3 separate regions of the Homo sapiens genome follow, and regions 2 and 3 are each linked to region 1. The links come from fine-mapping of genetic effects on gene expression. A gene starts in region 1. Each other region holds a variant in brackets. All regions are shown on one strand. Distances are from middle to middle. Region 1 holds the start of PDE6G (phosphodiesterase 6G). Region 2 overlaps NPLOC4 (NPL4 homolog, ubiquitin recognition factor). Region 3 overlaps NPLOC4 (NPL4 homolog, ubiquitin recognition factor).

The links. PIP is the estimated chance that this variant, and not a neighbour inherited with it, causes the effect.
Region 2: its variant is the best candidate, but not a certain one, in a credible set for the expression of PDE6G in whole blood (INTERVAL, PIP 0.63).
Region 3: its variant is the best candidate, but not a certain one, in a credible set for the expression of PDE6G in whole blood (INTERVAL, PIP 0.58).

The regions. Positions count from the first base shown.
Region 1 is chr17:81,655,218-81,657,970 of GRCh38, reverse strand. It overlaps PDE6G (phosphodiesterase 6G), which reads left to right and starts at 1,429. Exons shown (of 4, transcript NM_002602.4): 1 at 1,429-1,478.
Region 2 is chr17:81,617,580-81,620,332 of GRCh38, reverse strand. The region is part of intron 3 of NPLOC4 (NPL4 homolog, ubiquitin recognition factor); the gene reads left to right. Among named protein-coding and RNA genes, the nearest start is that of NPLOC4, 18 kb to the left of the region's middle. RefSeq lists enhancers at 419-962, 963-1,506. The variant C/T (reference allele first, on the strand shown) is at 1,366.
Region 3 is chr17:81,623,119-81,625,871 of GRCh38, reverse strand. The region is part of intron 2 of NPLOC4 (NPL4 homolog, ubiquitin recognition factor); the gene reads left to right. Among named protein-coding and RNA genes, the nearest start is that of NPLOC4, 13 kb to the left of the region's middle. The variant A/G (reference allele first, on the strand shown) is at 1,136.

The DNA of each region.
Region 1 (2,753 bases):
CTCAGCCTCCCAAAGCGCTGTTTGAGAGCCACTGCTCCCGGCCGAGTTATGGGTTTTTATTTATTTATTTATTTATTTATTTATTCATTTGAAACAGAATCTCGCTCTGTCGCCCAGGCTCTAGTGCGGTGGCGCGATCTCGGCTCACTGCAAGCTCCGCCTCCCGGGTTCACGCCATTCTCCTGCCTCAGCCTCCCAAGTAGCTGGGATTACAGGTACATGCCACCACGCCCGGCTAATTTTTTTGTATTTTTAGTAGAGTCGGGGTTTCACCATGTTAGCAAGGATGGTCTCGATCTCCTGACCTTGTGATCCACCTGCCTCAGCCTCCCAAAGTGCTGGGATTACAGGCATGAGCCACCACACCAGGCCTGAGTTATGGGTTTTTAAAGGTGCAGAGGCAGAGGTCACAGGCAAGTCATAAATCAGTACATGGAGGTTGTACACTGGTTTTGCCATAAATAGCAAGGAGATCTTGAAGCCAGGGACCACGGGTCATAGGTGGATTCAAAGGTTTTCTGATTTGGTGCAGAAGCGAATCTTTGTCTAAAACTTTGGGATCCGCAGGAAAGAATGTTAGCTCTGGGTTGTGGGCATGGCCTCCTCCAGGCCCCTCAGGATGGGCATAGCCTCCTCCAGGCCCCTCAGGAAGAAATTTAGGTAAGAGAAGGGTGGTCAGAGGCCAGTCCTCAGCTCCCGCTCATGTGAGGTCTGTGTGCCAGCACGCCCCTTTGGTGGGAGTCCCTGTTTCTGGAAAACAACTGAGGAGCACCTGCTAAGATGGCATGGTTTGCTTCTGTGGAGACTCTCGGGACTCTGGCTTCCATCTGTTGTTCTAAGCTCCTGTGACCTTCTTGTGACCTTCCTGTGGATCGGCTGCTCATTTCCTTCTCTGGGCTGGCTGGGGGCCTGGCTTGCCCTTGAAGGAACTCAACATTGTCCTTGCTTCTGTGCTTGGGAAGACCCACAGGCCCCTAAGGGCGGGGGGGGGTCCTTGTTTGGTTTCAGGAGCAGCAGGTGCAAAGGCCCTGGGGTGGGAGGGGTGAGATGTGAGGCCACAGCAGCGGGTGAGGGCCAGGCTGCAGAGGGTTTTGGGGACCATGAAGGTGGGCCCTTCAGAGATCAGGCAGGGTCAGGAAAGGCAGTAGGGAGGCCCAAGACAGCAGACACTGTGGTTGCTTCCATCTGGAAGATGGGCAGCTGCAGGAGCCTGGCTGTTCAGGGTCACACTTCTCTCCCTGTCCCGGCCCCATCTGCTGGGTGTCCTTCCTTGGAGCCCTTGACAGCACCTGAGCCCCTCCTCTCCATCCCCTGAACCTTGGTGGTTGTGCCCCCCCTCGGGGCCCAACAATCTCATTAGGGTGGCACTGAGACGCCTAATCAGCTCATGAAGCAGCGAGATAAAGGCCGGGGCTGGCACCCTGCGGAGGGAGGCCCAGCACTCACAGCACAGCCCCCTGAGACCCGCCCTGCACTTGGTGAGTAGTGGCCAACCCCGCTGTCTTTCCTGGCAGCCACTTCCCCCAGTGAGTCAGTGGGGGTCTGCTCATCACCCAAGGGGCAGAGGGAGCTGACAGGCTTTTACCACCGTGGCTGAGGTCTGGGTCTGCAGATGCCTACCCGCCACCCTGTTATTCAGAGGGGACTCCCAGCCAACCTCCTCCTCTGCTCCCCCATGGTAACCAGTGCTTCCACCATCCCCAGGCCAGTGATGGTCTGGGAACCTCAGGCCACGTGGGCTCAGCTGACCTGAGTGGACGCCAGTCACAGGCTGGGTCGGGCCAGGGCAGCGCAGGCAGCGGTTTCCACATGGATGGCATCTGATGGTTGGAGCTCCATCAGGGCCCAGAGCTGCCCAGGACAGCCCATGTCCCAGGGCTGGAGAAGCAGCTGGACGGGGCCTGTGCTATCTAGGATATGAGGATTGGGTGCCATGGGATCTGAGCAGCTGGGACCACCGGGCTCCTGAGTGCTGGTTTTGCACAGGCTGGTGCTGGTCCCAGTCCCGGGGACAGAGGCTGAACCTTAGTGAGGGAAGGTGCCATGGCAGGGTCCACCCCAATCCCAGGTGCCCAGCACCCCTTGCAGAGCCCGCGTCCCCAAAATGGGCCACCTGCCCTTGCTTTCTGATCACTCTCACGCCTGAAGCTCGGCAAACAGCTGGTAGTAGCCCAGGGCTGGAGTCAGGAATCCCAGCCAAAAAGACCAGGGGCAGGAAAGGGGACCCCAAGAGGTGGTCCCTGGGGCATCCAGTGCGGGCAAGCAGCCCCTCCTGTCTGTGTCATGTGCCTCCTTCCAGAACTTTCCGGCAGCATGTGCAGCTGACAGCAGCTCGATGGGAGATTAGGAATTCCCCTCTGCTGTTAATAGGCTTAGGGGAAGCTGAACTGCCCTTGGCCCAGGTCACTGGGGCTTAGGGCATCTGGGGAGAGGCTGTAGGGAGAGGAGGAGGAGAGGCCACCCTGTGCAGCAGTGCAGGGACACTGATCTCGTCCAGAGCGGCCGAGGCCCTTCAGCCACGCCACGCCACGCCAGGCGGGTGACCCTGCTCCCCGAGCTGACTCCAGACACAGAGAGGGCCTGGTGATTCCCCCAGCAGGGGGAACACATGCCCGGCACCCTCCGTCCCCAAGCCCCAGCTTGTCCCTCTATGAAGTGGGGTTGGGGAACGCAGGGCTTCACAGCTCAGCACCAAGTCTCTGAGACAGGCCCCTTTCCCAGGGGCGCCGTGCCTGGGGACCCTGCCCCCCATT
Region 2 (2,753 bases), 38 kb after region 1:
GTAGAGGTGGGGTTTCACTAAGTTGGCCAAGCTGGTCTCGAATTCCTGACCTCGTGATCCACCCGCCTTGGCCTTCCAAAGTGCTGGGATTACAGGTGTGAGCCACCGTGCCTGGCTCTTTATTCTTTCGTTACTTGAGTGTCTATCCCTAGACACTGCCAGTTAGTCTTGCTTTTTAAGGAAATTTGTATGTCTTACTTCTTGTAATCTTCAGGTTCCCCTTCCATCTCTTCCCTTTTCTTGAAATTTATCTGTTGAGGAACTTGGTCCATTGACCTGTAGAGTTTCCCACCTCTGAGGTCTTGCTGATTTCACATTCACAAGACCCTCCAGCATGACCCTCTGTGTCCTGGATTTCCTGCCGATGCAAAGCGGTAAACAGAGGCCTGACAGACTCAGGCCATTCCCTCAGCAGGACCATGGGGTGCTGTACCCCCACCTTTTTTTTTTTTTTGAGACGGAGTCTCAATCTGTTGCCCAGGCTGGAGTGCAGTGGCGCAATCTCAGCTCACTGCAACCTCTGCCTCCCAGGTTCAAGCGATTCTCCTGCCTCAGCCTCCTGAGTAGCTGGGATTACAGGTGCCCACCACCATTCCCAGGTAATTTTTGTATTTTTAGTAGAGACAGGGTTTCACCGTGTTGGCCAGGCTGATCTCAATCTCTTGACCTCAAGTGATTCACCCGCCTCAGCCTCCCAAAGTGTTGGCATTACAGATGTAAGCCACTGCGCCTGGCACCCCGCCTTTTTTCTTTTCTTTTCTTTCTTTTTTTTTTTTTTTCTTGAGACAGAGTTTCATTCTTGTTGCCCAGGCTAGAGTGCAGTGGCATGGTCTCAGCTCACCACAACCTCTGCCCCCCCGGGTTCAAGCGATTCTCCTGCCTTAGCCTCCCGAGTAGCTGGGATTACAGGCATGTGCCACCACGCCCGGCTAATTTTGTTTTTGTTTTTGTTTTTTGAGACGGAGTCTCACTGTGTTGCCCAGGCTAGAGTCCAGTGGCGCGATTTCAGCTCACTGCAAGCTCCACCTCCCGGGTTCATGCCATTCTCCTGCCTCAGCCTCCCGAATAGCTGGGACTACAGGCGCCCGCCAACATGCCCGGCTAATTTTTTGTGTTTTTTTTTTTTTTTTTAATTGATCATTCTTGGGTGTTTCTCGCAGAGGGGGATTTGGCAGGGTCATAGGACAATAGTGGAGGGAAGGTCAGCAGCCAAACAAGTGAACAAAGGTCTCTGGTTTTCCTAGGCAGAGGACCCTGCGGCCTTCCGCAGTGTTTGTGTCCCTGGGTACTTGAGATTAGGGAGTGGTGATGACTCTTAACCAGCATGCTGCCTTCAAGCATCTGTTTAACAAAGCACATCTTGCA[C/T]CGCCCTTAATCCATTTAACCCTGAGTGGACACAGCACATGTTTCAGAGAGCACAGGGTTGGGGTAAGGTCATAGATCAACAGGATCCCAAGGCAGAAGAATTTTTCTTAGTACAGAACAAAATGAAAAGTCTCCCATGTCTACTTCCTTCTACACAGACACAGCAACCATCCGATTTCTCAATCTTTTCCCCACCTTTCCCCCTTTTCTATTCCACAAAACTGCCATTGTCATCATGGCCCGTTCTCAATGAGCTGTTGGGTACACCTCCCAGACGGGGTGGTGGCCGGGCAGAGGGGCTCCTCACTTCCCAGTAGGGGCGGCCGGGCAGAGGCGCCCCTCACCTCCCAGACGGGCGGCTGGCTGGGCGGGGGCTGACCCCCCACCTCCCTCCCGGACGGGGCGGCTGGCCGGGCGGGGGCACTGACCCCTCACCTCCCTCCCGGACGGGGCGGCTGGCCGGGCGGGGTCGCTGACCCCCCACCTTCCTCCCGGACGGGGTGGCTGCCAGGCGGAGACGCTCCTCACTTCCCAGACGGGGCGGCTGCGGGGCGGAGGGGCTCCTCACTTCTCAGACGGGGCGGCCAGGCAGAGACGCTCCTCACCTCCCAGACGGGGTCGCGGCCAGGCAGAGGCGCTCCTCACATCCCAGACGGGGCGGCGGGGCAGAGGCGCTCCCCACATCTCAGACGATGGGCGGCCGGGCAGAGACGCTCCTCACTTCCTAGATGGGATGGCGGCCGGAAAGAGGCGCTCCTCACTTCCTAGATGGGATGGCGGCCGGGCAGAGACGCTCCTCACTTTCCAGACTGGGCAGCCAGGCAGAGGGGCTCGTCACATCCCAGACGATGGGCGGCCAGGCAGAGAGGCTCCTCACTTCCCAGACGGGGTGGCGGCCGGGCAGAGGCTGCAGTCTCGGCACTTTGGGAGGCCAAGGCAGGCGGCTGGGAGGTAGAGGTTGTAGCGAGCCGAGATCACGCCACTGCACTCCAGCCTGGGCACCATTGAGCACTGAGTGAACGAGACTCCGTCTGCAATCCCGGCACCTCGGGAGGCCGAGGCTGGCGGATCACTTGGTTAGGAGCTGGAGACCAGCCCGGCCAACACAGCGAAACCCCATCTCCACCAAAAAAATACGAAAACCAGTCAGGCGTGGCGGCGCGCGCCTGCAATCGCAGGCACTCGGCAGGCTGAGGCAGGAGAATCAGGCAGGGAGGTTGCAGTGAGCCGAGATGGCAGCAGTACAGTCCAGCTTCGGCTCGGCATGAGAGGGAGACCGTGGAAAGAGACGGAGGGGGAGGGGGGGCATTTTTTGTGTTTTTAATAGAGACGGGATCTCACCGTGTTAGCCAGGATGGTCTCGATCTCCCGACCTTGTGATCCACCTG
Region 3 (2,753 bases), 32 kb after region 1:
CAACCCTCATTTTTTTCTAGTGAGGAGCATTTGATCCTGTACCATGGGTTCCTAAGGCTGTTTTTTTTTTCCCCAAATCTCTGCCTTCAGATTATATAGCTGTTATTTTTATTGATTCATTTATGTTTTTCTTTTTAGAGTTGGTTGGATTCTCACTCTGTCGCTCAGGCTGGAGTGCAGTGGTGTGATCATATCTCATTGTAGCCTTAAACTTCTGGGCTCAAGCAGTGCTTCCACCTCAGCCTTCCGAGTTGCTGGGACCACAAGCTATTCACCTATGTTTAGGTTGACTCTTCTGCTCTCTCCCTTCTGCTGATAAGCCCGTTCAGTGAATTTTTTATTTCTGTTCTTGTGTTTTTCAGTTCTAGAATTTCCATTTGATTGTTCTTTTATGATTTGTTTCTTTACCGAGATTCACATTCCTTTTATTTGGGTACATCTACTCTGATGACCCCTCGGTGTAGAGCTCTTGCTCTGGCCCCTTGCCTGGGCTCAGACACAGATGCGCCCACCTGCCTGCTGGACGGCTTCACTGCAGTGTGTCTGGTTGTCACCTCCGATCTCAGTGTCAAATGGAAGTCCTGATTTTCCCTCTAGTCTTCTTCCTTTTTTAGCCTTTCCTTTCATGGTCCCTGCACAGGTGTTACCTCCACATAGTTTCTCAATCTAGAATTCTCAGCTTTACTCTGACCTCCTTCCTTTCTCTCATTCCATTCCTGCCCCTGGTCCTGCTCGTCAGCTGGGCCTGGTGATGACCACTGCTGGAAAGTGTGCTCTTGCCTTCATCCCCACCATCCTGTCCCATCTCATCCCCTGTCTCAGCCCATCTCTCTTGTCTCTAATTGGCACTCTAGCTTCCTCTTCAGTGTGGTGTTGAGCAACAGGGATTTTGTGGATGATGATTCCCCCTGCCTTTCGTCTGTGTGGCTTCCCACGGCCCTGTCTGCCTCGCCAGCCTCATCTCTTTCCATCTTCCTTATTGTTTATTGGCCTCTGGCCTCCGTGTTTCCAACACCCTTCCTGCCTCCTGGTCTTTGTGCTTGCTCCTACTCCCTGTGGCCTTTTCTCCCAGCTCGCGTGTGGCGGGCTTACCCACCGCTGGGTGGGCCCTGCTCAGCTGAAGCTCTTCAGAGAG[A/G]CTTCTAGCCTCCCATCTGAGGTTTCTTTTCCTTTTCTGTCGTAGTGCTTATTTCGACCTTTGTTGACTTTGTCTCCCCCATTTGTTGGTAAACTGCTTGACAGCAGGAACCTTGTCTTTTTTTTGTTTTTCTTTTTTTGAGGTGGAGTCTTGTTCCGTTGCCCAGGCTAGAGTGTAATGGCGTGATCTCATCTCACTGCAGCTCCGCCTCCCAGGTCGAAGTGATTCTCCTGTCTCAGCCCACCGACTAGCTGGGACTGTAGGCGTGCACCACCATGCCTGGCTAATTTTTGTCTTTGTTTTTGTTTTTGTTTTTTTGAGACGGAGTTTCACTCTTGTCGCCCAGGCTGGAGTGCAATGGCGCCATCTTGGCTCACTGCAACCTCTGCCTTCTGGTTTCAAGCAATTCTCTTGCCGCAGCCTCCTGAGTAGCTGGGATAACAAGTGTCCGCCACCACGCCTAGCTAATTTTTGTATTTTAGTAGAAATGGGGTTTCATCAAGGTGGCCAGGCTGGCCTCGATCTCCTGACCTCGTGATCCGCCCACCTCGGCCTCCCAGAGTGCTGGGATTACAGGCGTGAGTCACCACACCTGGCCTAATTTTTGTATTTTTAGGAGAGATGGGGTTTCACCATGTTGGTCAGGCTGGTCTTGAACTCCTGACTTGAAGTGATCCACCCGCCTTGGCCTCCCGAAGTGCTGGGATTGCAGACATGAGCCACCACGCCCGGCCAGAAACCTTGTCTTTTCTAGTTCATTTTTGTGATCTGAACACCCAGAATGGAGCTGAGCACATAGAACTGCTTAATATTTGTTGAAGGAATGAGTGAATATTCCCAGCATCTAGCAAAGTGCCCTGCACAGTGGACGTTTTATGATTTAGTCGCACCATTCTGTGTTAGGTTTCAGAATTGGAATTGAGTTTTGTTTTTTTTTTTGAGACGGAGTCTCGCTCTGTCGTCCTGGCTGGAGTGCAGTGGCGCGATCTCGGCTCACTGCAAGCTCCGCCTCCCGGGTTCACGCCACTCTCCTGCCTCAGCCTCCCGAGTAGCTGGGACTGCAGGCGCCCACCACCACGCCCGGCTAATTTTTTGTATTTTTAGTAGAGACGGGGTTTCACCGTGTTAGCCAGGATGGTCTCGATCTCCTGACCTCATGATCCGCCTGCCTCGGCCTCCCAAAATGCTGGGATTACAGGCGTCAGCCACCGCGCCCGGCCGGGTTTTTTATTTTTTTGAGACAGAGTTTTGCTTTTTTTTTTTTTTTTTTTTGAAACAAAGTCTTGCTCTGTCACCCAGGCTGGAGTGCAGTGGCATGATCTCGACTCACTGCAGCCTCTACCTCCCAGGCCCAAGCAGTTCTGCCTCAGCCTCCCGGGTAGCTGGGATTACAGGTGTGCGCCACCATGCCTGGCTAATTTTTGTATTTTTAGTAGAGACGGTTTCACTATGTTGACCAGGCTGGTGTCGAACTCCTGGCCTCGTGATCCACCTGCTTTGGCCTCCCATAGTGCTGAGATTACAGGTGTGAGCCTCCACACCCGGCCAGAGTTTTGCTCTTGTTGCCCAAGCTGGAGTGGAATAGCACGATCTCGGCTCCCTGCAACCTCTGCCTCCC